7 linked regions of the Homo sapiens genome follow. The protein of the gene in region 3 purifies or fractionates together with the protein of the main gene of each other region. This does not show direct contact. Each region holds a gene or a part of one and is shown on either strand. Other genes may lie near its edges. The genes, in order: RPTOR, ACAD9, FAF2, VPS13C, VRK2, INTS7 and TRO.

Evidence for each region.
Region 1: the proteins of FAF2 (region 3) and RPTOR purify together in Homo sapiens (affinity purification with mass spectrometry; 4 studies listed by BioGRID and IntAct, with this or other methods). This does not show direct contact.
Region 2: the proteins of FAF2 (region 3) and ACAD9 purify together in Homo sapiens (affinity purification with mass spectrometry; 3 studies listed by BioGRID and IntAct, with this or other methods). This does not show direct contact.
Region 4: the proteins of FAF2 (region 3) and VPS13C purify together in Homo sapiens (affinity purification with mass spectrometry; 4 studies listed by BioGRID and IntAct, with this or other methods). This does not show direct contact.
Region 5: the proteins of FAF2 (region 3) and VRK2 purify together in Homo sapiens (affinity purification with mass spectrometry; 4 studies listed by BioGRID and IntAct, with this or other methods). This does not show direct contact.
Region 6: the proteins of FAF2 (region 3) and INTS7 purify together in Homo sapiens (affinity purification with mass spectrometry; 3 studies listed by BioGRID and IntAct, with this or other methods). This does not show direct contact.
Region 7: the proteins of FAF2 (region 3) and TRO purify together in Homo sapiens (affinity purification with mass spectrometry; 3 studies listed by BioGRID and IntAct, with this or other methods). This does not show direct contact.

The regions. Positions count from the first base shown.
Region 1 is NC_000017.11:80,550,970-80,555,211, forward strand, and holds part of RPTOR (regulatory-associated protein of mTOR), read left to right. Parts: intron 1-4,242. UniProt on the Homo sapiens protein: Component of the mechanistic target of rapamycin complex 1 (mTORC1), an evolutionarily conserved central nutrient sensor that stimulates anabolic reactions and macromolecule biosynthesis to promote cellular biomass generation and growth.
Region 2 is NC_000003.12:128,896,199-128,900,440, reverse strand, and holds part of ACAD9 (complex I assembly factor ACAD9, mitochondrial), read right to left. Parts: intron 4,006-4,242; coding exon 3,905-4,005; intron 2,810-3,904; coding exon 2,731-2,809; intron 1,155-2,730; coding exon 980-1,154; intron 1-979. UniProt on the Homo sapiens protein: As part of the MCIA complex, primarily participates in the assembly of the mitochondrial complex I and therefore plays a role in oxidative phosphorylation.
Region 3 is NC_000005.10:176,496,885-176,500,384, forward strand, and holds part of FAF2 (FAS-associated factor 2), read left to right. Parts: intron 1-2,029; coding exon 2,030-2,201; intron 2,202-3,118; coding exon 3,119-3,262; intron 3,263-3,500. UniProt on the Homo sapiens protein: Plays an important role in endoplasmic reticulum-associated degradation (ERAD) that mediates ubiquitin-dependent degradation of misfolded endoplasmic reticulum proteins.
Region 4 is NC_000015.10:61,917,226-61,921,467, reverse strand, and holds part of VPS13C (intermembrane lipid transfer protein VPS13C), read left to right. Parts: intron 1-820; coding exon 821-970; intron 971-1,136; coding exon 1,137-1,401; intron 1,402-2,018; coding exon 2,019-2,179; intron 2,180-2,683; coding exon of another isoform or gene 2,684-2,746; exon of another isoform or gene 2,747-3,104; intron 3,105-3,210; coding exon 3,211-3,332; intron 3,333-3,832; coding exon 3,833-4,127; intron 4,128-4,242. UniProt on the Homo sapiens protein: Mediates the transfer of lipids between membranes at organelle contact sites. Necessary for proper mitochondrial function and maintenance of mitochondrial transmembrane potential.
Region 5 is NC_000002.12:58,154,513-58,158,037, forward strand, and holds part of VRK2 (serine/threonine-protein kinase VRK2), read left to right. Parts: intron 1-241; coding exon of another isoform or gene 242-258; exon of another isoform or gene 259-290; intron 291-3,525. UniProt on the Homo sapiens protein: Serine/threonine kinase that regulates several signal transduction pathways.
Region 6 is NC_000001.11:211,979,525-211,983,766, reverse strand, and holds part of INTS7 (integrator complex subunit 7), read left to right. Parts: intron 1-956; coding exon 957-1,091; intron 1,092-2,576; coding exon 2,577-2,674; intron 2,675-4,242. UniProt on the Homo sapiens protein: Component of the integrator complex, a multiprotein complex that terminates RNA polymerase II (Pol II) transcription in the promoter-proximal region of genes.
Region 7 is NC_000023.11:54,923,537-54,927,778, forward strand, and holds part of TRO (trophinin), read left to right. Parts: coding exon 1-232; intron 233-914; coding exon 915-1,019; intron 1,020-1,133; coding exon 1,134-1,197; intron 1,198-1,452; coding exon 1,453-1,532; intron 1,533-2,055; coding exon 2,056-2,147; intron 2,148-2,873; coding exon 2,874-2,953; intron 2,954-3,046; coding exon 3,047-3,089; intron 3,090-3,506; coding exon 3,507-3,569; intron 3,570-3,768; exon of another isoform or gene 3,769-3,899; intron 3,900-4,130; coding exon 4,131-4,242. UniProt on the Homo sapiens protein: Could be involved with bystin and tastin in a cell adhesion molecule complex that mediates an initial attachment of the blastocyst to uterine epithelial cells at the time of the embryo implantation. Directly responsible for homophilic cell adhesion.

The sequences.
Region 1 (4,242 bases), on a different chromosome or scaffold from region 3:
CTCCACCTCCCGAGTTCAAGAGATTCTCGTGCCTCAGTCTCCCGAGTAGCTGGGACTACCAGTGCATGACACCATGCCCGGCTGATTTTTTGTATTTTTAGTAGAGATGCGGTTTCACCATGTTGGCCAGGCTGGTCTTGAACTCCTGAGCTCAAGTGATCCTCCCACCTCAGCCTCCCAGAGTGCTGGATTACAGGCGTGAGCCATCACACCTGGCCAGAGGGATTTTTTGAAAGTGTGAAGGGGTGGGTTGCCCCTCCACACCTGTGGGTGTTTCTTGTTAGGTGGGACGAGAGACTTGGAAAAGAAAAAGAAACAGAGACAAAGTATAGAGAGAGAAATAAGGGGACCCAGGGAACCAGCGTTCAGCATATGGAGGATCCCGCCAGCCTCAGAGTTCCCTTAGTATTTATTGATCATTCGTGGGTGTTTCTCCGAGAGGGGGATGTGTCAGGGTCACAAGACAATAGTGGGGAGAGGGTCAGCAGACAAACACGTGAACAAGGGTCTTTGCATCATAGACAAGGTAAAGGATTAAGTGCTGTGCTTTTAGATATGCATACACATAAATATCTCAATGCTTTACAAAGCAGTATTGCTGCCCGCATGTCCCACCTCCAGCCCTAAGGCAGTTTTTCCCTATCTCAGTAGATGGAACGTACAATCGGGTTTTATACCGAGACATTCCATTGCCCAGGGACGGGCAGGAGACAGATGCCTTCCTCTTGTCTCAACTGCAAGAGGCATGCCTTCCTCTTCTACTAATCCTCCTCAGCACAGACCCTTTACGGGTGTCGGGCTGGGGGACGGTCAGGTCTTTCCCTTCCCACGAGGCCATATTTCAGACTATCACATGGGGAGAAACCTTGGACAATACCTGGCTTTCCTAGGCAGAGGTCCCTGTGGCCTTCCGCAGTGTTTGTGTCCCTGGGTACTTGAGATTAGGGAGTGATGATGACTCTTAAGGAGCATGCTGCCTTCAAGCATCTGTTTAACAAAGCACATCTTGCACCGCCCTTAATCCATTTAACCCTGAGTTTGACACAGCACATGTTTCAGAGAGCACGGGGTTGGGGGTAAGGTCATAGATTAACAGAATCTCAAGGCAGAAGAATTTGTCTTAGTACAGAATAAAATGGAGTCTCCTATGTCTACTTCTTTCTATACAGACACAGTAACAATCTGATCTCTCTTGCTTTTCCCCACAAAAGTGTGAATCAGATTCTGTTACTTCCTTACTGGTGGTCTCCATTGGCTTCCTCTGTGCTTAAAGTAGAACTCAGACTCCTCTTGCTGGTTCACAAAGCCTTCATGATTTGGCCTCTGCCTGCCTTTTCTGCTTCTTGGATAGAAACTCCTGGAATGCTTTTCTCTCTGATCTTTGCACACCTGGCCCCTTCTCGTCGTTCATACTTAGCATCTAGGTCCCTTCCTCAGAGAGGCCCACCATCACCCCATCTGAAGCAGCCACCCTGTCACTCATAAACCCTCCTGATGGCTATTTATTTCTCTGATATTTTTCTCCCTACTTCCTCCTGGAGATGTGAGCTTTTCATCATAAAGCAAGGACCTAGTCTAGTCTATGCTAGTCCATAGGGCAGTGCTTGGCACATAGTAGGGATTCAACAAAACTATACTGATACAAAATGGATAGTTTACAAAAGGCTTCCACATACATTATCTTTAAGGCTCAACAGCACCATAAATTACCTAGGGATCATTCTCTCCGTGTTACTGATGAGGTAACTGACGTTTTAGTTGAATGGCTTACCTAAAGTTACATAAGTAACATGGCTAGCAGTGAGAGGAAGTGGAACCTGTGCAGAGGGAGAAACAAAGTTTAGTTCAAAACAAAACAAAACAAAACTGTATCATAATGTCTCCACTGAAACATTTATGTTAAGAGGTCAGGGGGTTGAAAATAGCAGACCAGCAGACCAACATTCAGCAGACAGAGAAGGATGCTCAGTCTGCTCACAGCATGTGCCCTGTGCACTGGGGCTTCTCCTAGACCCTTGCAGGGATCCACAAGGTCAAAACTGTTTTCATAATAATGGAACACCATTGGCCTTTTCCACTCTGTTGATACCTGCACTGACAGTGCAAAAGTGATGAATCAAGACAGCGGTGCCAAGCTGTACTACTAGTTCCTGATTTCTTTGCCATGCACATGGAGAGAATGTCCTTGCTAATAAAGCAGTGAAAATGATGACTTTTACTAAATCTTGACTGTTAAGCACACATCTTTTTCAGACTGTGTGTGCTGCTCCTTCTCCTGCAGGCAAAGCCCAGTGGCTGCCTGGAGGAGGAGCATCTGCTGCCTTCATGGACGCAGCACGTCCCAAAGGAATCACCGACAGGCCGCCTCTGGATGTTGAGGCCTGTGTCCACGGCAGACGTGTTTTTGAAAATGAACTTAGTGAGCTGTCACTTCAAGGAATACAGCTGACAGTATTTGCTGCCAGTCATGAAATTTGAACCTTCAAGTGAAAATTGGTTTTGGAAAACTTGTATCTGCCGCTGTGAGCCTGGCAGCTTCCCAAGACTTAAAGATGTTTCTGGTGAGATCCATAGTGATATTAATGAATGGAATTAATGTTGTAGAATGAAATGTGCCCACATTTGGAACAGCTGCATAATTCAGTGAACAAATATTTCCAGATGACCAATCCATGATATTATAAAATCATCCATAGGTAAAAGATCCGTTCAATGTTAGACCAGTGGATTTTAATGTAATAGGGTACAAAAAGTTCACCAGAGGATAGGTGTTTTTTTTTCTTTTTTTTTAAGACGGAATCTTGCTCTGTTGCCCAGGTTGGAGTGCAGTGGCGCGATCTCGGCTCACTGCAACCTCCGCCTCCCAGGTTCAAGCAATTCTCCTGCCTCAGCCTCCTGAGTAGTTGGGATTACATGTGCCTGCTACCACGCCTGGCTAATTTTCATATTTTTAGTAGAGATGGGGTTTTGCCATATTGGCCAGGCTGGTCTCGAACTCCTGACTTCAGGTGATCCACCTGCCTTGGCCTCCTAAAGTGCTGGGATTACAGGGGTCAGCCACCACACCCCGCTTGATGTTCTGTTGTGTGCGTGTGTGTATATTTTTTGTTGTTATTTGTTTGTTTCACAGTTCACTGCATCCTTGACCTGGGCTCAAGTGATCCTCCTGCCTCAGCCTCCTGAGTCGCTGGGACTACAGGTGTGAGTCACCATGCCTAGATTTTTTTTTTGGATTTTTTGTAGGGATGGGGTCTCACTATGTTGCCTATAGTGAGAGTTTAAATATTTTATTCAAATAGATTGCAACAGATCTTTAAGAAACTACCACTTACTCAATTTTGTTGTAATATCAAATAATAATATTCTCAATTATTTGGATATTCTGATACTCCTGCCATTATGTATCTTTGTGAGGCCAGATTTTTCTCACATACTTCAACCAAAACAGTGTATTTCAACCCATTGAATGTGGCACCAAAAATGAGAATCCAAGGTGGGGTGCGGTGGCTCACACCTGTAATCCCAGCACTTTGGGAGACTGAGGCGGGCAGATCATGAGGTCAGGAGATCAAGACCATCCTGGCTAACACGATGAAACCCCATCTCTACTAAAAAATACCAAAAATTAGCCGGGCGAGGTGACGGGCGCCTGTAGTCCCAGCTACTTGGGAGGCTGAGGCAGGAGAATGGCGTGAACCCGGGAGGCAGAGCTTGCAGTGAGCTGAGATTGCGCCACTGCACTCCAGCCTGGGTGACAGAGTGAGACTCTGTCTCAAAACAAAACAAAACAAAACAAAACAAACAACAACAACAACAAAAAAAATGAGAATCCAGTTGTCTTCTATGAAGCTGGATATTAAAGAGATTTGCAAAAATCTAAAAAAAGCCACCTGAGACAAGTGACAAGATAACTGACAATTTTTGAAAATATAGTTATTTGTAGAAATGTTATTTATTTGAATATATAATAAGTTTGATTTTTAAGTGAATTCATAAATATATCAATTATGTTTTTCTGTTTTAACCTTCAATACGGAAAATGTTGATAAATGAAACTCATAAAAAAGCTCTTTGAGGGTCTTCAGGAACCTTTAAGACCGTAAAGGGGCCCTGCTGCCAGATGTTTGAGAGTTATTAGTGTAGTTAGAAGAAAGTGGGCCTCATCCTTAGGAAGAAGGGCTTGAGGATATCAGGTGGCTGGTCAGAAATGTCAGGCAGGGCCTTGAAGTGACATTAGATAAG
Region 2 (4,242 bases), on a different chromosome or scaffold from region 3:
TGGTGAAACCCCATCTCCACTAAAAAATAGAAAAAATTAGCCGGACGTGGTGGCAGGCAGCTGTAGTCCCAGCTATTCGGGAGGCTGAGGCAGGAGAATGGCGTGAACCCGGGAGGCGGAGCTTGCAGTGAGCCAAGATAGTGCCACTGCACTCCAGCCTGGGCGACAGAGCGAGACTCCGTCTCAAAAAAAACAAACCAAAAAAAAGTGGCCAGGTATGGTAACTCACACGTGTAATCCTAGCACTTTGGGAGGCTGAGGCAGGTAGACTGCCTGAGCTCAGGAGTTCAAGACAAGTCTGGGCAACATGTTGAAACCCCATCTCTACAAAAAATACAAAAATTAGCCAGGTGTGGTGGTGCACGCCTGTAGTCCCAATTACTTGGGAGGCTGAGACAGGAGAATCACTCGAACCCAGGAGGCAGAGGTTGCAGTGAGCTGAGATCACAGCACTGCATTCCAGGCTGGGTGACAGAGGGAGACTATGTCTCCCACGGCAAAAATAGTACTTATATGGCTTGGCTTGGCCCCTTAGGTGCTTATGATCTGCTCTAAGAACAAGCCTCCAGATGGACCTGAACCCAGATGGACCTGAACCCAACTCACAGCCTGAAGCAGGCTGCCAGGCACTGCAGACTGAGACAACTAAAGGCTGGGGACTGTAAGCTGAGCTCTAAGGTGGTGTGTCTGCTAGGGCAGCTACAGCAGGGGATGACCAGCAGGCCTTCAAGTGAGCAGCACTCAGCTGCAGGAACAAAGACAAAGCCCAAGTGGCATTCTTAATTTGATCTTTTTAAAATGCTTAACAAAAACTGAAAGTGTTTAAATCTCATTTTATCTTGCTATTTGGACAGAGTCAAGGGCCAGTCTCCCCCTTACACACACACACACACACACACACACACACACACACACACCGTCAAAGGCCAGTCTCCCCCTTACACACACACACGCGCACGCGCGCACAGGAGCTACTTACTGTTGGAGCCCCGAATGCCTAATTTATCTTCGGGTTTCCCATTAGTGACTCCACCAAAGTCTCTTTCTACTATGAATGCTGTGATTTTGTCTTTCACTGATCCATCAGAATCAACGACCTCAGTCTTTGCAAACACAGTAAAAATATTGGCCAGTCCTCCATTAGTAATCCAGACCTGAGGACAGAAAGATGGACTTTGGAGAAAACCAAACCCCTATGTGACCCACCTCAGCTCTGTCTTTGTCCATCAAGCTCCAGCTGCCAGTCAGACCTCAGGCCAGACATGCAGGGTCCTTGGCTCTGCAGAAGCCAACCAAGCATGAGTGAATAGAGGACAGGGCTCAGCCCACTTTCCCCAGAGCAAGGATTTTCCCAAGGGACATGGATGGCCAGGTGGAGGCGGGGGCGGGGGAAAGAACACCCAAAGTTGTCAGACAGCTCAGGCTCCACCGCCAGACAACTGCATTTCTTCAAGAAAGAAAGGGTTTAATCATTTCTTAAGGTATACATATATAAAAACATCATGTTGTAGATGTAAATACACACAACATTTATTTGTTAATTCTACAAAGAAATGAAAAAAGGCGGGAGGGTGGTGAGGAGGAGGAAAGGAAACAGAGGGAGACAGAGGCAGAAACAGACTCCTTAACAAACAGCAACAGATGGGACTTGTGTGGATCTTAATTCAAGCAAACAGTTAAACCAAAAAAAGGTATGAGGCAATCAGGGATATTTGAATGCTGATAGAAGTAAGAAATTATTAGCTGGGCACAGTGGCTCACGCCTGTAATCCCAGCACTTTGGGAGGCCGAGGTGGGCAGACCACTTGAGCCCCGGAGTTTGAGACCAACCTGGGCAACACGGTGAAAACCCATCTCTACCAAAAAAAAAATACAAAGAGTTAGCTGTGTGCCTGTACTCCCAGCTGCTTGGGAGGTTGAGGTAGGAGAATCACCTGAGCCCAGGAAGTTGAGGCTGCAGTGAGCCAAGATCGTGCCACTGCACTCCAGCCTGGGTGACAGAGCGGGACCCTGTCTCAAAAGAAAAGAGAAATTATCAATTTTTAAAATGTGATAAGGGTATTACGGCTTTGTGTTTATTAAAAAACAAAAACAAACAAAAAAAACTCCTGTCTTTTAGAGAGGCATGCTGAGATTGTTACCATGCGATCTGGAGGTGGCGATGCTGCTGGAAGAGGCACAGTGGCCATAAGCAGGTGACTGCCGGAGTTAGGGCCAGCCAGGCACACAGAATATGTCTGAAACTTTGTGTAACAAAAAATTTAAAGATTTTTTGGGTTTACAAGCCGGGCACAGTGGCTCATTGCCTGTAAACTCAGCACTTTGGGAGGCCGAGGTGGGCAGATCACTTGAGGTCAGGAGTTCAAGACCTGACTGGACAACATGGTGAAACTCCATCTCTACTGAAAATACAAAAATTAGCCAGGAGTGGTGACACGCACCTCTAATCCCAGCTACCCAGGAGGCTAAGGCAGGAGAATCATTGGAAACCTGGGAGGCAGAAGTTTCAGTGAGCTGAGATTACACCACTGCACTCCAGCCTGGGTGACAGAGACTCCATCGCAAATAAAAAAAACTAAAAAAAATTAAAAACAAACACATAAAAGCAGCTCAAGAAGGTAGTCGGTGCTACAGCAGCAGGTACAATCCCTGGTGTGTGGAGAGTGCTCACTCAGTGGCAGTGAAGGTTGTGACTGAGACCCTAATGTGGCCATGGGGAAGGAACCCTACCTTGGAGCCATTGAGGATGTAGTGCTTCTTGTCTTCACTTAGTGTGGCTCTGCTCCGGATTGAGGCTGCATCGCTCCCACTGCAGATGCAGAAAGATGTGGTCAAGGGAGAATACTGGGAATAAATATGAATGCTTTTGAGGGCCTGAAAATGGAGGTTTTAGTACTTGTAAGAGGTCAGCAAACTTTTAAAATGAAGGGTCAGATAACATATTCAGCTTTCCAAGCTGCAGGATGTCTGTCTCACCTCCTCAACTCTGCTGCTATTAATAGAACATGAGGCTGAGGCAGGTGGTTCACGAGGTCAAGAGATTGAGATCTGGCCAACATGGTGAAACCCCGTCTCTACTAAAAATACAAAAATTAGCTGGGTGTGGTGGGGCATGCCTGTAGTCCCAGCTACTCGGGAGGCTGAGGCAGAAGAATCGCTTGAAGGCGGAGGTTGCAGTGAGATGAGATTGAGCCACTGCACTCCAGCCTGGGTGACGCAGCAAGACCCTGTCTCAAAAACAAACAAACAAAACTTATTTATAAAAAACAGGCAGGAGGCTGGATTTAGCCGACCTCTGCTTCAATACATCACGTAAAAAAGCGGCAGTGAAAACAACTTGGGCTTAGGTTTAAACATGGAAATGGGTGCTTGCAATGGGCTCATCTGAGGTCCTGTGAGGATGAGTTCTGGGCACCCCAGGAAGGATGACTGTTCCCAGGTTCTCATGCAAAGTGAAGCAGGATGGAGGATGGTCCAGGTGATGGACTTATCATCAGAGTCCCGAGTGCTGCCGCAGCCCTGCTCCATCCAGCAGATCACACAGCCTCACTGAACCTCAGCTCCTAATGTGTAAGTGGGAGCAGTACCACCCACGCTATATATTCTGAAAGGTGCTTTGAAGCCGGAACGTTATTACTATATTGTATGTCAAGGTGTGTTGTAAACCACAAAAATTTATTTAATAAGTGCTGTCAAGCGTGGTATCTCACTTGCAAGTCTCACTGGGACAGAGAAATAAGGTCAAGATAAGAGGAATGGCAAGAACAGTTGCTGAGTTGATTCTTTGCAAGATTTTGGAAAGAAGGAAAAGTCAGCTACTCAACAAAACCAACAGCCCCTTGCCCCAGTGAATCTTGGGCAACATCACAGCTGCTGAGGGATAACGTTTTGTGCAGAGACAGACCTGGCTGGCTCCGTGAGGCAGAAGGCTGCAATGTGCTCCCCGGACGCCAGTTTAGGCAAGTATTTGGCTTTCTGCTCCTCAGTGCCAGCCAAGATGATCCCCTAAACAAAACAGACACAGACTAATGTCAGCTGTGGGGAGAAAGGAGAGCATGAGGTGTTTGTGAAACATTTCCTTTCTGAGGCAAATATTTACTTCGGGCAAGAGAAGACAGCAAGAACTCAGAGCAAGCGGCCACAGGCAGAGCCCAGGGAGCCAAGCTGCTGAGGAGACGGTCAGGGCGCACATGCCAGTGCCGTGAGCCTGTGCAACCCACAGTGCTTTGCAGTCTGTGTCCA
Region 3 (3,500 bases):
CAGTGGCTAACACCTGAAATCCTAGCACGTTAGGAGGCTGAGGCAGGAGGATTACTTGAATCCAGACTGGGCAGCAAAGCGAGACCCCATCTCTACAAAAAATAAGAAAAAATTAGCTAGGCATGGTGGTACATGCCTGTAGTCCCAGGTCCTTGGGAGCCCGAGGCAGGAGGATTGCTTGAGGCCAGGAGTTCGAGGCAGCAGTGAGCTCTGATTGTGCCTCTGCACTCCAGCCTGGATGACAGAGCAGGACTCTGTCTTTAAAAAATAATAAATGAATGAATAAACAAAGACAGGCCTCTGTGCTCAAGAATGTATATTGTGGCATTTAGAATAGCTGAATATAATATAAAGAACTTCGATGTAAAAAAAAAAGTGGAATGGTTATAATTCCTCTCCATTACATAAGTTATGTACATTAATTATAGGAAATCCTAAAACCACAAAAAAGCACAAGGAAGAAATTTAAGATCACTGATAAACCTACCACCACTTGAACATTGTTATAAATTTTTTTAATTTTATACACAACACACACCCCTATATACGTACACATTTATTTGTAAAATTGGGATAATACTTTTTTACAACCCTTCTTTATGTAAGAATATATCACGGCCTTTTCCCTCATCATTAAATATTCTGCCACATTTTAAAAATTACTGCATAACATTCCATTATCTAAATACATCATAATTTAACCAGGCCACTCTCGTTGGATTTTTAGATTATTTTCGGTTTGTTACTATTATAATTAGCATATAGGGAGATAATTTTTTGCAATTTGTGATGGTTTCCTTAGATTAAAATTTAAATTCCTGGAAGTGCAGTTTCTGGGTGAGACAATCAATATAAGTATATTTTAAGGCTCTTGATTTGTAATGCCAACTTGCCCTCAAGAAAGTTAAACAAACTTAAATTTTATGGAAAGTTTTTAATAACATGGGGACATGCTTGTTACATATTAGAAAAATGCAGAATCAGGCCGAGCATGTTGGCTCATACCTGTAATCCGAGCATTTCGGGAGGCTGAGGTAAGAAGATTGCTTGAACTCAGGAGTTTGAGGTCAGCCCGGGCAACATGGTGAAACCCCATCTCTACAAAAAATACAAAAATTAGCTAGGCGTGGTGGCACACGCCTGTAAGCTGAGGTGGCAGGATTGCTTTAGCCTAGGAGGTTGAGGCTGCAGTGAGTCATGATCGCACCACTGCACTCTAGCCTGGGTGACAGGCTAGCCCTGTCTCCAAAAAAAAAGAAAAATGCAAGATCAAAATCCTGTAAATAATAGCGTTATTTTAACTGTGTAAAAAAATGTATAGAACAGGAAACTTTCCGAGGTAACTGAAATGTTCTGTCTTGATTGGAGTGGTGATTACATGGTTACATTTATCAAAATTCATTGAATTGTACATTTAAGATCTGTGCATTTCACTGCATGTAAATTTTATCTTAATTTTTAAAGATAAAATCTGTTCAACTATTTTGATTGGCTAAATATTTTGGCTAAGAGAAAACAGAAATTTGTTGGAGAGAAAATAGGAGATATGCCAAATGTTATAATGTTTTATCTTTGATTAGTGATTCTCTGAATGACTCTGAAAACTCTACATTTTCAGATCTGCTACAATGTGTGTATGGATATATATGTGTGTGTTTTGGTTTTATGAGATCAGTACAAAAATGCAGTCACCCAAAATGGTATTTACTTGTAAAATATGATATTGATGATCCCTTCATAATAACAGTACTGTGTCACATTTGTTAGAATTAGGGGAAAAGTTTTATTTTAAAAGAGGAGAGGAAAGCTTGCTGTTTCCTTTTCTGCCAAATTAAACTGAGAAAAAAGGTGGCTTATTCAGATTCTGCCACGCTCTGCTTTTGGAATCCCTTATGGCAGTGTGAAATCGTCATCTGCTAAGAATATCAACATTTTTACACACACACACACACAGAAGATTTCAATATAAGAAAACACAGAACTTTGTGAGAGTGCTGTTTTTCTTCTCTTGCTTTTGATCTATTCACAGGGAAGAAAGAAACCAGACCCAAGTGCTGAGACAACAGCAGGATGAGGCCTACCTGGCCTCTCTCAGAGCTGACCAGGAGAAAGAAAGAAAGAAACGGGAGGAGCGGGAGCGTAAGCGGCGGAAGGAGGAGGAGGTGCAACAGCAAAAGTTGGCAGAGGAGAGACGGCGGCAGGTAATGGACGTGTGGCTTTACTCCCTGTGGTTCCCAAACTGCCGAGACTTTGCCATCTTGGTCTTAAGTGTGAAAGGAAAAAATGATAGCCACCTTAAACAGACTAAGAGGGAAAAAAAAAAAGGAAAAAGGAAAGAAAAAATTACAACATGTTGGAATTAGGGGTGATTTAAATTTTTCATACCATTTAAATATTCATTCTTTTTTAAATAAAAATTTAAAAAAAGAGACGGGCTTTGCCATATTGGCCAGGCTGCTCTCGAACTCCTGACCTCACATGATCTGCCTGTCTTGGCCTTCCAAAGTGTTGGGATTACAGGCGTGAGCCACCATGCCTGGCCCTAAATATTCATTCTTAATACCAGTATTAGCTGATTTGGCATTTTACTCATTATCTTTTTGTTTTTGTTTTGTTTTGTTTTGTTGTTGTTTTTGTTCCCTAGCAATCAGACTGAGATATACATTATCTTATTTGATTATGTATTACCGCTTACCTATAACCAGTGTCTTTTAGTCATTTCCTTTTATTTCTTTTTTTTTTTTAAGAGACAGGGTCTCACTGTGTTGCCCAGGCTGGCGTGCAGTGGCTATTCACCAGTGCAATCATGGAGCACTACACCCTGAAACTCTTGGGCTTAAGAAGTCCTGCTGTGGCCTCTGAAGTAGCTGGAACTACAGGCACATACCATGGCACCCTGCTCCCTTTCTCCTTTTTCTCAAATAAATACCTAGACATAATAAAGAATACATGAGATGCAATTGTACTTTAAATTTAGGTTGTTTTTGACTATTCCTGAGAGGTTTTTCTTAGAATACTTAGTCATTAATTTTTCTTCTGACGACTGCGTAATAAAGCTACATGGTCATTGTATTTATTTCTTGAGCTGTAGCCTCACCTTTGCTTTGTGTCTCTGCAGAATTTACAGGAGGAAAAGGAAAGGAAGTTGGAATGCCTGCCCCCTGAACCTTCCCCTGATGACCCTGAAAGTGTCAAGATCATCTTCAAATTACCTAATGATTCTCGAGTAGAGAGACGATTCCACTTTTCACAGTCTCTAACAGTAAGGACCACCTAAGTTCTGTGAAGTGTATGTAGCATCTGGGCTATAGATTTGGAGCTTTTACTGACTCTTGAGAGTGGTGTTGGTGTATCTGCTGCTCTGATGAACAGGGAACAGAGAGAGAGAGAGAGAGATGGGTATGCCATCCGTGGACACCAGGAAGAGTACCGAGGACTGCTGTAGGCTCCTTCAGTTCTAGTTTCCAACTCAAAGCAATTTTTAAGTTTTTGTTTAATTA
Region 4 (4,242 bases), on a different chromosome or scaffold from region 3:
GACCAGAATATTTGAGAATTGTTAATGAACTCTTGTGTGTTATCTTTTTATGTTGTTTTTTGAGAACACCTCAGAAACCTAGATACTGAAGCACATTTTTCTTGATTAAAAGGAACTTGAGTCATATATTGTTAAGAAATTGTCGTAGCATACTTCTTTGGGGCAGCCTTACTAAGGAGTCAGGCACTGAAACTGACTCCACATATTCTTTTGTTAAAGATGAGTCACTTAACCTGTGTTCCAATTTCCTCTCAATAAAGAAGTAATATTTTTCTGACCTGCCTTTCTCTGGCATAGGGAGGCTAACAAAGAATGTTTTACAAGGCTTTTGAAATACTACTAGAACAGAAGCTGATGGAATCTGATGGCTAGTTAAGTGTTTATTATATTAATATTACTTATTTGAAGGTGTTATTGGTTTAAAAAATAGAAGGAGAGAAACATTTCCAGGTGGCACCTCTAATAGGGATCAGTTTAGACTTCAGGGTCCTCTTAGATTGCTCGTCAACACATAATCACCAGTTGGGTGACACTGAATAAATAGCTATGCTCTGAGGAATGCATAAGAGACAAATATTGTAGCTGGCTTTGAGTAATTTCATGGCGTAATTCTAAACTTTTCCCCATGCTTGGACTATACCCTGAAAGAATGAATGCTGAACTCCATGAAATCAAAGTGAAGCATGGTATATTTTTGAAAATAAGACTTTTGCGAAGCATTACTATAAAGTGATCAGTTTAGGAGAACTGAACTCCAGCATTTTTATTTTATTATCAACTGGCTAATAATTTAAATTTGCTGTGTTATTTTTCTTCATAGGTAAAGAAGAACCCAGTTCAGGATAAAAGTTTGCTGCCAGGAGATGATTTTATTCCTGAGCCACAAATGGCAATTCATATTTCTTCAGGAAATACAATGAATATAACAATATCCAAAAGTTGTCTTAATGTTTTCAACAATTTAGCAAAAGTATGTCTGAATCTTGCTTAGAATATTTCAAGTGGAATTTTAAAATGAAACATATAATTTTTTTGTCATCAAAATTAGTTTCCAAAAAATGTGTAATTATGGTATAGGTTTTGGGAAGAATGTATGTTTTTCAAAAATTTTACTGTGATGATATGTTCCTTTTCAGGGTTTTTCAGAGGGCACTGCTTCTACTTTTGACTACTCTTTAAAGGACAGAGCTCCTTTTACGGTAAAAAATGCTGTAGGTGTTCCCATTAAGGTGAAGCCCAATTGTAATCTCAGAGTAATGGGCTTCCCTGAGAAAAGTGATATTTTTGATGTTGATGCTGGCCAGAATTTGGAACTGGAGTATGCCAGCATGGTACCTTCAAGTCAAGGGAACCTATCTATATTGAGCCGTCAAGAAAGCTCCTTCTTCACTCTGACCATTGGTAGGCTATATTTGTTTTCCTTAAGGGTATCTTAGCAGTTGTTGGTGTGGGCTTATTTTTGATAAAATGTGAAAAAACATTTTGCTGCAGATATCTGGAGATACAACATTTGAAACATATAATTGCTAACCTCTTGTTTCTTGTTTTCTAAACTTGAGAAAATTAAACTTTATTGATTTAAGAAAACTTTACAAAACTAGATTATTTTTGTGCCCTTAAATAATGTATATATTATATAATATATATAAATATTATATATATAATGTGTTTTTAAAAGGATAGGAGTTTACTGAGGAGAGAAAATAGCTATATTCAGAAGTCTTACAGTGTTGACACTGTGACAAAGAAAAAGATTGTTGCTATATGATTGAGAGAATAAGAAATAAGTTGGATTTTGTTTTTATATTCAAAACCCCAAGCAAAACTGTTTTCAGCCAAAAATTTTATAACAGTAACTGGTCTTCTTTTTAAGTTTATGTCTTAGAAAAGCAATTTGTGGTGATCATTTCTAGTGATGAGGAAAAATACTCTTCATTATTTTGAGGTACTAATGATTGTTATAGAGAAACATTGGCAAATTAATATTTGGAATTCTTTTCACTTATGCACTGCCTTAGTACCTCATGGATATACAGAAGTTGCAAATATCCCTGTGGCCAGACCTGGACGGCGATTGTATAATGTACGGAATCCCAATGCCAGTCATTCTGACTCTGTCTTGGTACAAATTGATGCAACTGAAGGGAATAAAGTAATTACCCTTCGCTCTCCTCTACAGGTAATACTTCAAAGTTAATTGTATCCCTTTCAGTGTACCAAGAAATGGTTAAATCATTTAGCTGAATATAGGAATACAGTAAAACTTCATCAGGTCAATTCTGATTATTCAGAAATAAATAGTAATTATTCAGAAATAAATAGTAACAGAAATGGCTTCTATTTACTGTCCAGCTTGCTCTGATAATATTTATTTTAAATGTCTGTAGTTTTGTTTACTTAAAGCTCATTTTTGTTTTCTGTCTTTTAAGACAAATGCAAAATTAATAAAGCTCTTTTGGTATATTCCTTTAAATATTCAGAACCGAGGATTATTGTAATTGTAGTTAGGAAACATTCCATTCTCTTTGTATGTCACTTGGATTATATTTTTCAAGATATGTATGAAGGCATATTGGAATGATCTATCCCTCTGAAAAACATTTTAGCATCTTAATCTGTGTAAATATTTTTTCTACTTTTAAGGTTTTATCCAACATTTTTCTTTTTCTGTGTATTACTACAGGTTTCAGCATATGGTCAACAAAAGAACATTTTTTTTCCTACCTGTAACATCAGATACAAATGAAAAGGTTTCAAATTTTGGACATTGTTATCTTATAGTTTGTTATTTGCTCCAATGCGTAACAGACTGATGTCAAGAAAAGAATTGTACTATTTTTCTCATGATTTTTTGCTATCCATTTCTGTTTAGTTGTTATACATGATACATTGAGAAAAGATTGTCATGGAGAAAAAATGGCTTAAATCTTCAGAGAATAATACATATTTGAAAGATAATATAGACTAATACTAAACATAAGCTTATAATATATGGAGCATTTGAATATCTCAGTTTTCAACTGACACTTAAACATTAAATTTAATATATATAGCACTTAAATACCCTAAAATTTTTCAATTGCCAATAAAAATATCTTCCAATACTGAGTTTGAAATTTTTTAGATCTAAAAGTATTTGTTTGTGGCTCTCATTTTTTCTTTCGAACTTACATATCTTTTAAAAAACTTGTATTTTTTTTTGTCCAACAGATCAAAAACCATTTCTCCATTGCATTTATCATCTATAAATTTGTTAAGAATGTTAAGCTATTGGAGCGCATTGGGATAGCCAGACCTGAAGAGGAGTTCCATGTTCCTTTAGATTCATATAGGTAGATACTTCTTAAATGTATTAAACTTTAAATGTATTGAGTTGGGGATTTATATTCTGGCAAATAACTTCATATTTTTATTAACTAAAGATCAGTAAAAGCCAGTTTTAAGACATAATTTAGTCTTCCATTGAGAAATACATTTATATTATCATTGAATTTATCAGGTGAAAATTCCTGACTGTATATTTGATGTCAGGATTTTTCTGACTATTTTTATTAGATTGCCTTTGTATTTGAAATGAAAATTTTTTTAAGTTGTCTTGTTTACAGAGTTGTTTTTTGTTTGTTTGTTCTTTTCAGAAAGTCCTCCGTAAGTTAGCTATGTGATTTTGGGTGAATTTCCTAACCTTTTTTTTAGCCCTGGTTTCCTCATCTGTATATCTGTAAAAACAGGAATAATAGCACCTATCTTGTAGAGTTGTCAGGAAGATTTAATGAGATGCTTTTTTTTAAGTTGTGGATCAAAACTTTATTGTCACTGTTTCCTCTTTCTGCAGATGTCAATTGTTTATCCAGCCAGCTGGAATCTTAGAGCATCAGTACAAAGAATCTACCACTTATATTTCCTGGAAGGAAGAACTTCATAGGAGCAGGGAAGTCAGATGCATGTTGCAGTGTCCATCAGTAGAAGTCAGCTTCTTACCTCTCATAGTGAATACAGTTGCTCTGCCTGATGAATTGAGCTACATATGTACACATGGGGAAGACTGGGATGTAGCTTACATTATTCATCTTTATCCTTCTCTCACTTTGCGGAATCTTCTCCCATATTCCCTAAGATATTTACTTGAGGTATGTCTCTTGCATTTTGTTTGATTTTTGTTGTTGCACAGAGTAAATTCTGATTTTGTTTTATGGTATTTTTAAGTGAGGTCAGTGTTTTATATAGCGTATGTGTAATGTGTAA
Region 5 (3,525 bases), on a different chromosome or scaffold from region 3:
TTTTGTCTTTTCTAGTACAAATATTTAGTATTATAAATTTCCCTTCTAGCATGACATTAGCTATGTCCCATGTTTTGATATGTTGTATTTTTATTTCCATTCGGTTCAATGTATTTTTTAATTTTCCTGGGGTCTCTTTGACCCATTTAAAGGGGTCTTTAAATTTTAAAGCATTTGGAGATTTTCCTATTATTTCTTTCCTTCATCTTGATCTTGGTGTATTTTCTTCCCTTTTTTCCAGTTTAGGTAGAAGCTTAGGCTATTGATTTGAACCCACTATTTTTTCTAATGTAAGTATTCCATGCTATAAGTGTCCTGCTAAACCCTGTTTGTACTGCATCCTGTAAATATTTATACATTTCAATTTTGTTCACTTCAAAATATATTTCCCCTTGAGACTTTTAATACCTTATTTAGAAATGTGTTAATTCCCAAGTATCTGAAGATTTTTTTTTCAGTTATTGATTTCTAGTTTAATTATATTATGGTCTAACAATATAAATTTGTTAGGGTTTGTTTTATGGATAGGATATGACGGTCTGCCTGGTTGAATGTTCCAGTTGCAGTTGAAAAGAACATGTATTTTCCTGTTTGGGGGTGAAGTAGTCTATAAATATCAGCTAGATCCCATTATCTTGTGATGTTACTGATTTATTTTATATTCCTGCTGATTTTCACTCTAGTAGTTATATCAATTACTGAGAACAGAGCTTTCTAGTTAGGGAGATGTGCGATGCCAACTCTTTGCTGTTTAATGCACAGCAGGCACGGTCAAAAGGGCAAGTGCCTCTCCAGTTTCTGAGGCCAGAGTGGAGGGTTGCTGTTGCTCTGATGTTTGCTCAGTGCAAGGTGGAGAAGGTTGGTAGCTCTCTACTACGGTCTCTACAGTGTCTGGTGGGGAGGAAGACAGGTACCACATCTGCTTGTGTTAGTGCAGGGAGGAACAGGCTATATGGCTCTGCCTTACAGTTTTGGTAGTCTCCTGGTGGGAAGGAAGGGGGACCACCTCAGTAGTACAGGCTGGGAAAGGTTGTCAGAGCTCTATCTCACAATTTCCCTAACACCCAGTGGGATAGGGTATCACCTTGTTAGTGTGAGGACGGTCAACAGGGCTCTACCTGTCTCCACAGTGCTTGATGGGGGAAGGGTAGGTGTGCTCCCTGGTTAGTGTAGGGTGATGATACTCAACAGGACTGTACCCTCCCTCTTCACCCCACCCTTGCCACCTCCCCACCGCCCCCACCATCCCCCCCACCCCGCCGCCCCGTTTCCACAGCACCTGGAGAGAAGTAAGGTACAGCTTCTTTCATGGTGTTCACCTAGGGTTCAGCAGGTATAAAAAGATTCTGTCCTGTAGACCTGTCCTCCCCCAGGGCTATTGGTTACATAGAGCATGTTTTTCATGTTTGTTTTTTTTTTTTTCCAGTCTGTGCATATTGCTGTTTCCAGAACGCAGGCTCTTTTATGGCCCAGGCTGGGGTAATAGGAGGTACTAAAGTACATGGCGGGTGGAGACTCAAGGGAGGGTCATTTTTAGAATTTTCAGTGTTTTGATAGGTGCTTTTTGTCCACTCTTTAATTACCAGAATAAGGTGGGATGCTTACTCTTTCTTGTCTATAACTGGATGCCCCTCACTTTGATTTTGAAAGCTTCATTGAATATGGAATCTATTCTTTCAGAACTTTAAAAAGGATGTTTCCATCTTCATAGGTCTGTTTTTTTTTCTGCTAAGAAGTTAGCAGTTATTCTTATTGGCCCATTTATAATGTATTTCTTTCTGTGGCTTTCAAGATTTGCTTGTTATTTTTGGTTTTGTAAGGATGGCTGTCTTTTGTTTATTGTGCTTTGGGTTCGTAGAGCTGCTTTTATCTGTGGGTTGATATTTGTCTTCAAATTGGAAAGGTTTTGTATGATTTCATCAATTTGTTTCATGCCTTAATCTCTCTTATTTCTCTGAGTTCCAAATACATGCATGTTAGAATACTTTACCTTTTTCATAGGCAGCTAAATAACTATTTTTTTAAATCAGTCTTTTATGTTGCTGTACCTCAGGTTGGGTGGTGGTGTTTTTTTTGTTTTGTTTTGTTTTGTTTTGTTTTGTTTTTGCCTGACCTCTAGTTGATTGTCAAATCAGCTGTTAAACCTAGCCAATGAATTTTTCATGTTATACCCTGTATTTTTCAGTTCCACAAGTATATTTCTTTGTATGTTGAGATTCCACCTCCCCCATATCTGTTCATTAATTATGTTCAACTTTAATTCCTTGAACATATTTATGTAGATGTTTTATAGTCCTTGTTTGATAATTGTACCATCTGGATCAGCCCTGAATCTCTGTTAATTTTTTCTCCTGGTTATGGGTCACATTTCCTGCATCTCATTTGTAGTAGTTTTATTGTATACTGAACATTGTGGATGCTGTGGTCTTTAGACTCCAGATTTTATTGCATTCCTTTAAAGAGTTTTGAGGTTAGTTCTGGCAGACAGTTAACTTACTGGTGACTAAACCTGATCATTTTATAAGTTCTGTTCAGGCTTTTTTGGCCTAGTCTGCAGTAAATCTTAAATTGTGGCCTTTCTTAGGTCTGTGTTATTTTCCCTTCCTGAGCTTTGTTTTAGATCCCTAAGTTATTTCACATATTTTGACTAATTTTGTTTTCTATTATTTATTTATGGGTTTTCACAGCAGAAGGGGAAGTCTGGTATCAGATTTTCATGGCCAGAGTGGAAGTAGTGTTGCTATTTTTCATAGCTTCCCAGTCGATTCTGATGTGCATTCAAAGTTAATAACTATTCTAATGTAGGGTTTCTTGACAGCTGCACTGTTGACATTTGGGAGCTGAGCTGTTATTTGTTGTGGGGGTGCTGTCCTGTGATGTAGGATGTTTCGCATCATTCCTAGTACTTATCTACTAGGTGTCAATAGTATCTCCTCCTAGCTGTAACAACCCAAAATGTCTCCAGAAATTGCTAAATGTCCTCTGTGGGGCAGGATCAACCCAGGCTGAGAACCAATGCTCTATCACAGTAGATTATTGCATTGCCTTGAGCCCTTTGCTACTCAAAGTGGGGTGTGCAGACCAGCTGTATTGGCATCATCTGGAGCTTCTCAGAAATACAGAATCTCAGGTCATACTCCTAGACCTTTTGAATGAGATCTGCATTTTAACAAGTTATGATGATCTGTTTGCTTTCTAATACTCGAAGAATAATGCCGTAGAGCAGGGGTCAGCAAACCTTTTCTTAAAAGGCCAGAAAGAAAATATTTTCAGTTTACTTTCCATACAGTTTTTGTCAGAACTATTCAACAATGCCATTGTAGTGCAAAAGCCCACATAGACAATACATAAACAAATTGATGTGGCTCTGTTCCAATAAAACTTTATTCACAAAACAGGCAACTAGCCAAGCCAAATTTTGGCAACTCCTGTTATAGACTATCCTAATCAGACCCCCTCAGTGTACTGAAGACAACAGGTGGTTAAATTCTTTGATGAGTGCCTTGCCATATGATGTCATTTGCT
Region 6 (4,242 bases), on a different chromosome or scaffold from region 3:
GGTCCCATGTCACCACAGATATTCATGGTTTATGTCTATTGTAATTCTTAGTAGCGTCTCTTTCAGCCTCAAAAAATACGGTCACCCTTGGTATGAGAAACAAAGTTGAAGTTGACGAGAATCATGGAAAAATAAGCAGAGGAAAAGAAGACAGGAATGGGAGACTCTTTTAAGTAGTTGAACAAGCCCTAATCTCCTTGTTTTCTTGAAGCTTATTCAGTTATAACTGAGGGCTTCTCTACTGTAAATTACAATAGTTACAACATGAACCTTGCATTCCAGAATTTCAAATGTGAATTTTAAAAATTGCTGCAATCTATAGCATGGAATTTAAGGTATAAAGCAGAAGAGTATAATAACAGGGGCATTAGAACATGACTGATAAGTTTTATGAACTTAATGGCAAGATTCTTAAAATTTTGGGGCTTTGGGCTTTGATTCCACCTGTAAAAATAGGGTGTGTTAAATCAGATGATCCCAAAATTCTTTCCAGCTCTACAATCACGAATTCATATGAGGTATAAATGTGTGTCAGCAATCTGAGATGGAAAAAAAAAGCAAATTTAAATTTTTTTCTCTTTTCTCTCCTATCTTGAAAGTATGGTTTTGTCTGACAAGAGGCCTATAATGATACCTGTTTTAATCAGAATTCATTTGAACTCTTAGGATAGTTGTTTTGGCTTTTGTACTGTTAGTCAATTTTTATTAATATTTTTTAAGAAATTATACGTTGATTTTAGATCTTAGTCATTACGAAACTGTTGGCACATACCTATTTCAAGTACCTTAATGGAGAGAAATGCTGATATGTATTGATAGTGGGATTGTGGTAGGAAATTTTGTTGAAGTTTATTGTTAGAGACTTTTCTCAAAAATTAAGAAAATTGAACCTATGAGCTGAACTGCTTTTGAACTATTTGAATTACAATTTCTACTACTTTTCTCTGCTTTTTTAGGAAATGTGAGTTCTTCTCCCAGATCTTCTGATTTAGTCAAATTAGCCCAAGAGTGCTGTTACCATAATAACAGGGGCATTGCAGCTCATGGAGTTAGAGTCCTAACTAATATAACTGTTTCTTGTCAAGAAAAGGGTAAGTTTGATCAGGACTGATATTACGTATAAACTTTGGTTTAGACCTTGGACAGAATTCTGTTTGATTTTTTTTTAATCCCTTATTTTTAGCCTGTGTGCCTTGATCTACAAATTGACTCCTTTCAAAGTGTTCTTAGAGCATGTGTTCTTAAGACTACTTTATCCTTGTGAAAAATAATAAAGAGATGAAGACCTTGGGAGTGGAATTGAAAGGTTTTATGGAGCATTGCCCATTTCCTTCCACTGCTTACCTTTGCATATATGGTGCATATATGGTGGATAAAGATTGCTTAGGACTCTACCCCTTTTGTATAAGGTGGTATGTTCACTTATACAAAAACCTAGAAAATTTACTTAGGTTCTCCAGGGACTTAAATAACAAATAGTTTCACCTAGAGGCAAGTGAATTCACAGACCAATGTGAATTAAATTTTCACAGAATTTACTCTAGGTATATGTGGCATTAAACTGACTTGCATAATCAAGGAGGACATGCAAGGAAAATAATGCACATATTTTGTTGTCTACCTAACATCTTTTGACTTGTGTTCAAGAACAAGAAATGCATTTTGGATATTCCATCTGTTTCAGTGCTGATTTTGATCTTCATTAAGGATTACAAGCTCAGTGGTTCCTCTTATCCCCCCTAGCCTTCAGCACTGCTTGTTCCTAGTACCTGTTTTTTTCTAGCAACCTGACCTTCACTAGCCTTTACTCTGTTTGCCAAGCTCCTGCACTCAGGAAACATTTCTTAAAGTTGAAAGTTGATTCTGATTTGGATAATTAAGCCTGTTTTATATTGGCATCACAAAGAGTATTTTCTTCCATGTAACACAGAAAACTGCTGTATGTTCTCAACACTGAAATATATTAACCTAAAGGTAACTAATATATTCAGAACTTTCTAAAACCTTCAGAGAAATTTTAACCCTATGGTAGTGAAAAGATGTTCTAGTGCTGCTATTTCATGAGACATCTAAGAGGTTCATTCTTTATGGTCAGACTTAAAACAGTAATAAGGTTATGTGGAGACCTTATTATTTCCTAAAAGTGGTTCAGCTTTCATTAGAAGCTGAAAACTGTTATATCTTAGGTAAAAATGGACCTGCATAATTTATTTCTGATTAGGGAGATTAACACATACTGCATAGTTTGCTGTTCTTAGTATTTTCCTTAGCTAAGCTGGTGACACTATTTCAGTTTTGCTTTATTTATAGCTTTGTGGCTTTAGCTCTTGATTTAATGTGTATATTTTTATAAATACTTCAATAAAGTGGTAGAAATAAAGTCTGAAGATAGACTTTACATTCTAGAAGTAATGCCACATGTACTTTTTCAAGGAAGGTTAGGTTCATCCATTTAATAATTCCCTATATCTTAAACTCCTTAATGTTTTTTCTAAGAGAGTGTGTATGCATGTATATGTGTGTGTGTTTGTACACACATCACTTGACCATCATAAAGTTTACTGTTTTTCTTCTAGATCTTTTGGCACTGGAACAAGATGCTGTCTTTGGCCTGGAATCCCTACTGGTACTTTGTAGTCAAGATGATAGTCCAGGTGCTCAGGCCACTTTAAAGGTGAAAACTTTTATTTATTAAGTTGTAATAGATATATATGATGGTCTTAGGCAATAGAAAGCAAAGTTAAGCAGACATAGCTCCTGTACTCTTAGAAGTTTTAATCTAAGTGATTAAATCTAACTGATAAAACTACACTGATTTAATCTAACTGATAAAACCACAAAAAAACTGATGACATGACTGCAGCCGACTCATAAATGTTCATTAATTTAACATAAGCGTTCATTAATTTCCCAGTGGTATAAGCCCTAGTTTATAAGCCAAGGGAAGAATATTTTAAGGAATTTTCACCTTCACTTAGTTACAGAAATCATCTTAGAGATATGCAAGATTTTTAAAATGTGAAATGAGGCCAGGACAGTGGCTCTCATGCCTATAATCCCAGCATTTTGGGGCGGTCAAGGTGGAAGGATTGCATGAGCCTAGGAGTTCAAGACCAGCCTGGGCAGCATACTGAGACCCCATCTCTAGAAAAATTTTTTAAAATTTAGCTGGACATATTGGGGCACACCTATAGTCCTAGCTACTCATGAGGCTGAGGTGAGAGGATTGCTTGAGGCCGAGAGGTTGAGGCTGCAGGGAGCCATTATTGCACCACTGTTCTCTACCCTATGTGAAAGAATGAGACCCTGTCTCAAAAAAAATAAATAAATAAAATGTGAAATGAAACTACTCTTTTTGGAGTGAAACGTGAAATATAATTTGTGATGGTGCAAAATTAATGAGGAGAAGCATAGTTAATAGAAGTAAGAAACTGTTAGATAAACATTGGCGTTAGCTTGTCTAAGGTGTGGTTTCAAGGAAGTCATGGCTCATTTTAGCAGGTTAAGGAAAGTTGTGATATGGTCATAGTGATGAACAATAAAGATAGTAACATCATTAAGTGACAGCTAATAAGAAGTAGAGAAGGGAAGTAGACAACATGTGTTTGGCAACACATTCTGAGGGGGATCCTCAGAATCCCCTTGGAACCACAGTACATTTAAGACTTTTTTTAAAAGCAAATCTTTTTTCCAACAATTGTGGGTGTCAGTAAAATGCTGGATTCAGCACAGTGGGACATACATAGATGGCCAAGAAAGGTTCCTGTAATAGAGGAGCTTCCCATCTAGAATAGGCTACTGATGTTTATATAGGGGACTATAATACCAAGCGGAACACAATACATTCTCTGATATTTCACAAAAAAAGTGCAGTTCTAATGAGAGGTCAGAGTCGGGAGTGATTAACTTTAACCAAGGGTATTAGGGAAGACTTTAAATAAATGTCATATGAGTTGAGTTGTGAAAGATGGAATCGAATTACAGTAATGAGGAAAGATTGTTTGAGCCCAATGACTGCTGTTATAAAAGACTTGAAAGTAAGAATGTACCTGTTGTGGTGGAAGAATGGTGACTAGCCCACTGTGGCTGGGTGAAATAATTTGAGATTTGGAAAAGTAGTTCAGTCATAGAGGATATCAAATAACATGGTATTATGGCTTTGATTCTATAGGTAATGAGGAGATAATATAATTTTAAAGTAATGGTAACCTTTGTCGTAATTATTATTGTTATTTGAATGTC
Region 7 (4,242 bases), on a different chromosome or scaffold from region 3:
GCGGGTCAAGAGAGGGTCTAGGGCTCGGAAGGCTGCCACTAAGGCTCGGGCAACTGAAAGCCAGACTCCAAATGCTGACCAAGGGGCCCAGGCCAAGATAGCCTCTGCTCAGACCAACGTAAGTGCCCTTGAGACTCAGGTTGCTGCTGCTGTCCAGGCCCTGGCAGATGACTATCTGGCTCAGTTGAGCCTGGAGCCCACAACCAGGACCCGGGGCAAAAGAAACCGAAAGGTGAGATCTCTGACATTGCCATCCTTAACTTTGTGCTTCTTTTCCATTTCTACCCTTCTAGTTTGTTCATTTCTTCTATAAAAGTTTTACTTTGAGCTAGTCCCTGTGTTCAGATAGGCTGTGGAAGATGCTGAGAAGAAGGTGATATAGTTTCTGCTCCCTAGCAGTTCACAGATTGGTGAGGAAATAAGACATCCATACACTCAGCTACAACCTGTATGTAATACTACTTGTATTTAAATAGTAGTTACCACGTGCCAGGCTTTGTGTTGGGTACAGTTACACAGGGTATGTCTGAATGTCTTGAAAGTAACTCTTACCAACAAGGGATCATAGGTCCCAGTTTTACACTTAAGAAAACTGAGTCTCAGAGAAATGAAGTGACTTGTCCAAGAGGTACCAGCCAGCATAATTGGTGGTAGCCAGAGGAAGAGAAAGACCCTTAGGCTCTTATCTTGAGTTGTTCCTGGCCTGGCAGAGGAACGAAACTCCTTCCTGGAAGACAGTGAAAGATAAGCTCAGGACTCAGGGTGGCCAATGGCAAGGTCAGGATCAGGCTCCACTACAGCAAGGCTGAGGGAGGGGGTTAGAGGGACTTTCTGTCTGGAGCAGGCAAGGTGAGGAGACAGAGCCATCTCTTTCACCTGGTGACTCTGGACCTTCCTTCTTTCTGATGATGAAGTCCAAGCATCTGAATGGGGATGAGAGAAGTGGCAGTAATTACAGGCGGATCCCATGGGGCCGGAGGCCTGCACCACCGCGAGATGTGGCCATTTTACAAGAAAGGGTAAGAATCCAATGCTGTCCAGTCTCTTCTCTTCTTCACTTGCCCTCTTCTCTGCCTCCTTCCAAGTTTTCTGCAAGCATGTTAAGATCTCTCCATCTATTCCTCTCCTCCCAGGCTAATAAGTTGGTGAAATACCTGTTGGTTAAGGACCAGACAAAGATCCCCATCAAACGCTCAGGTAGTGTCCTACCAACCCTCCTCCTTGAGCTCTCCTCTCCACTCCCCTCTCCTCCCATAGTCTGGGAGTAACACTTTATGGCCTCTTTGTTCTGTCATATCTCCACACCTGCCCTCCTTGCACTCTGCCATGGCTGGCATCTCCCATTAACTCACTTCAGGTCTCTGATTGCACTGACCCAACAGGACTGGCAAAAGGGCTGCAGCTCTGTGGCCCCTGCTAAGCTCAGCTACTCTCACCTCTCCTTTTCTACAGACATGCTGAGGGATGTCATCCAAGAATATGATGAATATTTCCCAGAAATCATTGAACGAGCAAGCTACACTCTGGAGAAGGTGAAGGGGCAGTGCTGGCGGATGGGCGCAATGGGGAAGCTTTGAATCGAGCAAAGACATACATGTCCCTTTTGGAGAGAATCACAGAAACATGCTAATCCAGCCCCATTACTGTGTGAATGGGCAGACAGTGGCCTAGGGAGAGGTGTAGATTTGCCATGGGTCACACAGCATGTCAGTGATGAAAACATGGCTAGGACAGAAGCCACTCAAATTAGTCTCAGCTTCTATTCATAGTTGGACATATTCTGCATGTATTTCAGATCTCACCTCTCCCTTGTATCCCCATTTTCTGTCTCCCTAGATTCCTGCTCATCACAAAGATGATGTTGATGACAATAGTACATTTGCTGTGTGTTTACTGGGTGCCAGGCACTTGGCTATGTGCTTTATGTGCATTATCTCACTGACTTCTTACACATGCAGACCCCCTAAGTACACTGGGAGTTTTAGGATGCCCGGAAAGTTCACTGATACCTAAGCTGAATTTTGTGATCTCACAGGCTATTCTTTTACTTGGCAGATGTTTCGAGTCAATCTGAAAGAAATTGATAAGCAAAGTAGCTTGTATATTCTCATCAGCACTCAGGAATCCTCTGCAGGCATACTGGGAACGTAAGCTGGGAAAGGGCTGGAGTGGGAAGGAAGCTTCTGCTTTTATCTGTGCTGCTACCCCTTCTTTGTCCTACTTCCCCCATCCTCTTAGAGAGTCAGGAAAAACAGGGTCTCAAAAGCCCTGTCTCAGCACCTGCACATAGTTGGAGCCCTGCTCACAGTAGTGGCACCTGATTATGATTGACTGAAGGGTATAGGAGCCTAGGGTGGGACATTCCTGCTGTCAGGTTTGCTGTCTCTGTAGAAGCTTCCCAGGAAAGCAGGCCTGTCATTGCTTGCCTCTTCCGATGGAGTGCCTGGCCTGGCTTTGACAGAGTGGTTCTCAAGGAGGGCTTCCTGGTGTGGCTGGATCAGTATGCATGAAGCGCAAGAGTGTCAGTGGGGCTGAAGGTTCTGGGAGAGAAAGAAGGGACTCACATTGACTGAGTGCTTGTGTTGTACCAGGTTGACAGCCATTCTTCCATCTTCTTGGCAACCTGAGGAAGGGAGAATATGATTTTCCCATTTTACTGAATAATAGACCAAGGCTTGCAAGGTCTAAGTGCCTTGCCCAGGGTGGCATAGAGCTGGAAGCAGAGACTGGGCAGAATTCTGTATCTGAGGAATCTGGGAGAGGTTAGCCTGGTGAGCTGGCTGGTGTATCTTTTGCGGATGGCTGCTGAAACATAAACCTTCTTTCTGTCCTGTTGAAACATAAACCTTCTTTCTGTCCTGTTATTCCCTTAGGACCAAGGACACACCCAAGCTGGGTCTCCTCATGGTGATTCTGAGTGTCATTTTTATGAATGGCAACAAGGCCAGTGAGGGTGAGTGGCTGGGCATGCAGCTGAATGGGCGGCCATGGTCTGGATTCCATGTGTTCAATTTCTGTCCCTGTCTCCTCTTGCCTCCCCTCACAGCTGTCATCTGGGAGGTGCTGCGCAAGTTGGGGCTGCGCCCTGGGTATGACTGGGCTCTCTCAGCGCTTGCTGTCCGTGTTGTCCTTTGGCAAGAGAGGATGGTCCTAGGATTGCATCAGTCTGGTGGTCTGGTGGAGCGGGTGGGGTGCTGGACTGGGTAGAGGGCCCAGGGTTCTGACCTGGGTGGATGACGGGCAAATGGTCCTGAACTCTCTGCTGTCTCTCTCCTTAATGTCCTCTGTCTGTTCTAAGCTGAGATGTTAGATAGACCTTCAGGGATCCCTGACAAAGAGGCATCTGGTCTTAACTGCTTGCTTCTAGTGGCCATGTGCTCATTACTTTCTTCACTTCATTGAGACTGCCCCATGTGCTAGAGAGGTCTCTTCCATGTTGGGAAATGCCTCTGCCCTCATCTGGGCAGTTCTGATCTGTGTTCATGGGTTATTTTTCCCATTGTCAGGGTGAGGCATTCACTCTTTGGGGAAGTGAGGAAGCTCATCACAGACGAGTTTGTGAAGCAGAAGTAAGTGGTGTTTGGGGCTTTGTCTGGCCCTGAAGTGTTCTGGGTATACTGATCTGGTTCAGAAAGTGCTTAGTCAGTGCCTTTCTTATACTAGCTTTAGAGGGATGGGCATCCTGTGTCCTAGAACTGATACTGTCTAAAATTCCCATGGGCAGACCTTTCCAGGACTGGGCCAGACTCAACACAAGGCCCTTGCAGTGGGGTGCGCTCAGAGCAGAGGGCCTTAAGAATGGCTCCTCTGTTTACAACACACCCAACAGGAATCTGGGCTTACTCCTCACAGGTGGCATGATACTTTGGCCTTCCTGTGACATCATGCCCTATACATGTCTCCCCTGGAGAAGCCCAAGGGACTGCTTTGCACAGGGCCAGTGGGAAATGGCTCAGTATTGGAGGCCAAGACCATAAACTGTGTTTGGTAGTGAGTCTGGGGCTGGAGGGTCTTAGAAATCCCTCTCCAGGGGCTGTTTGTATTTGTTTGGAGGAGGTTGCCACCTGGTGTCTAGTGCTTAGACAGCAGGGTTGCTTGGTTAGAAACAAGTTTCATTTCCTTTTTCCAAGGTACCTGGAGTACAAGAGGGTCCCTAACAGCAGACCACCTGAATATGAGTTCTTCTGGGGCTTGCGCTCCTACCACGAGACTAGCAAGATGAAAGTCCTCAAGTTTGCATGC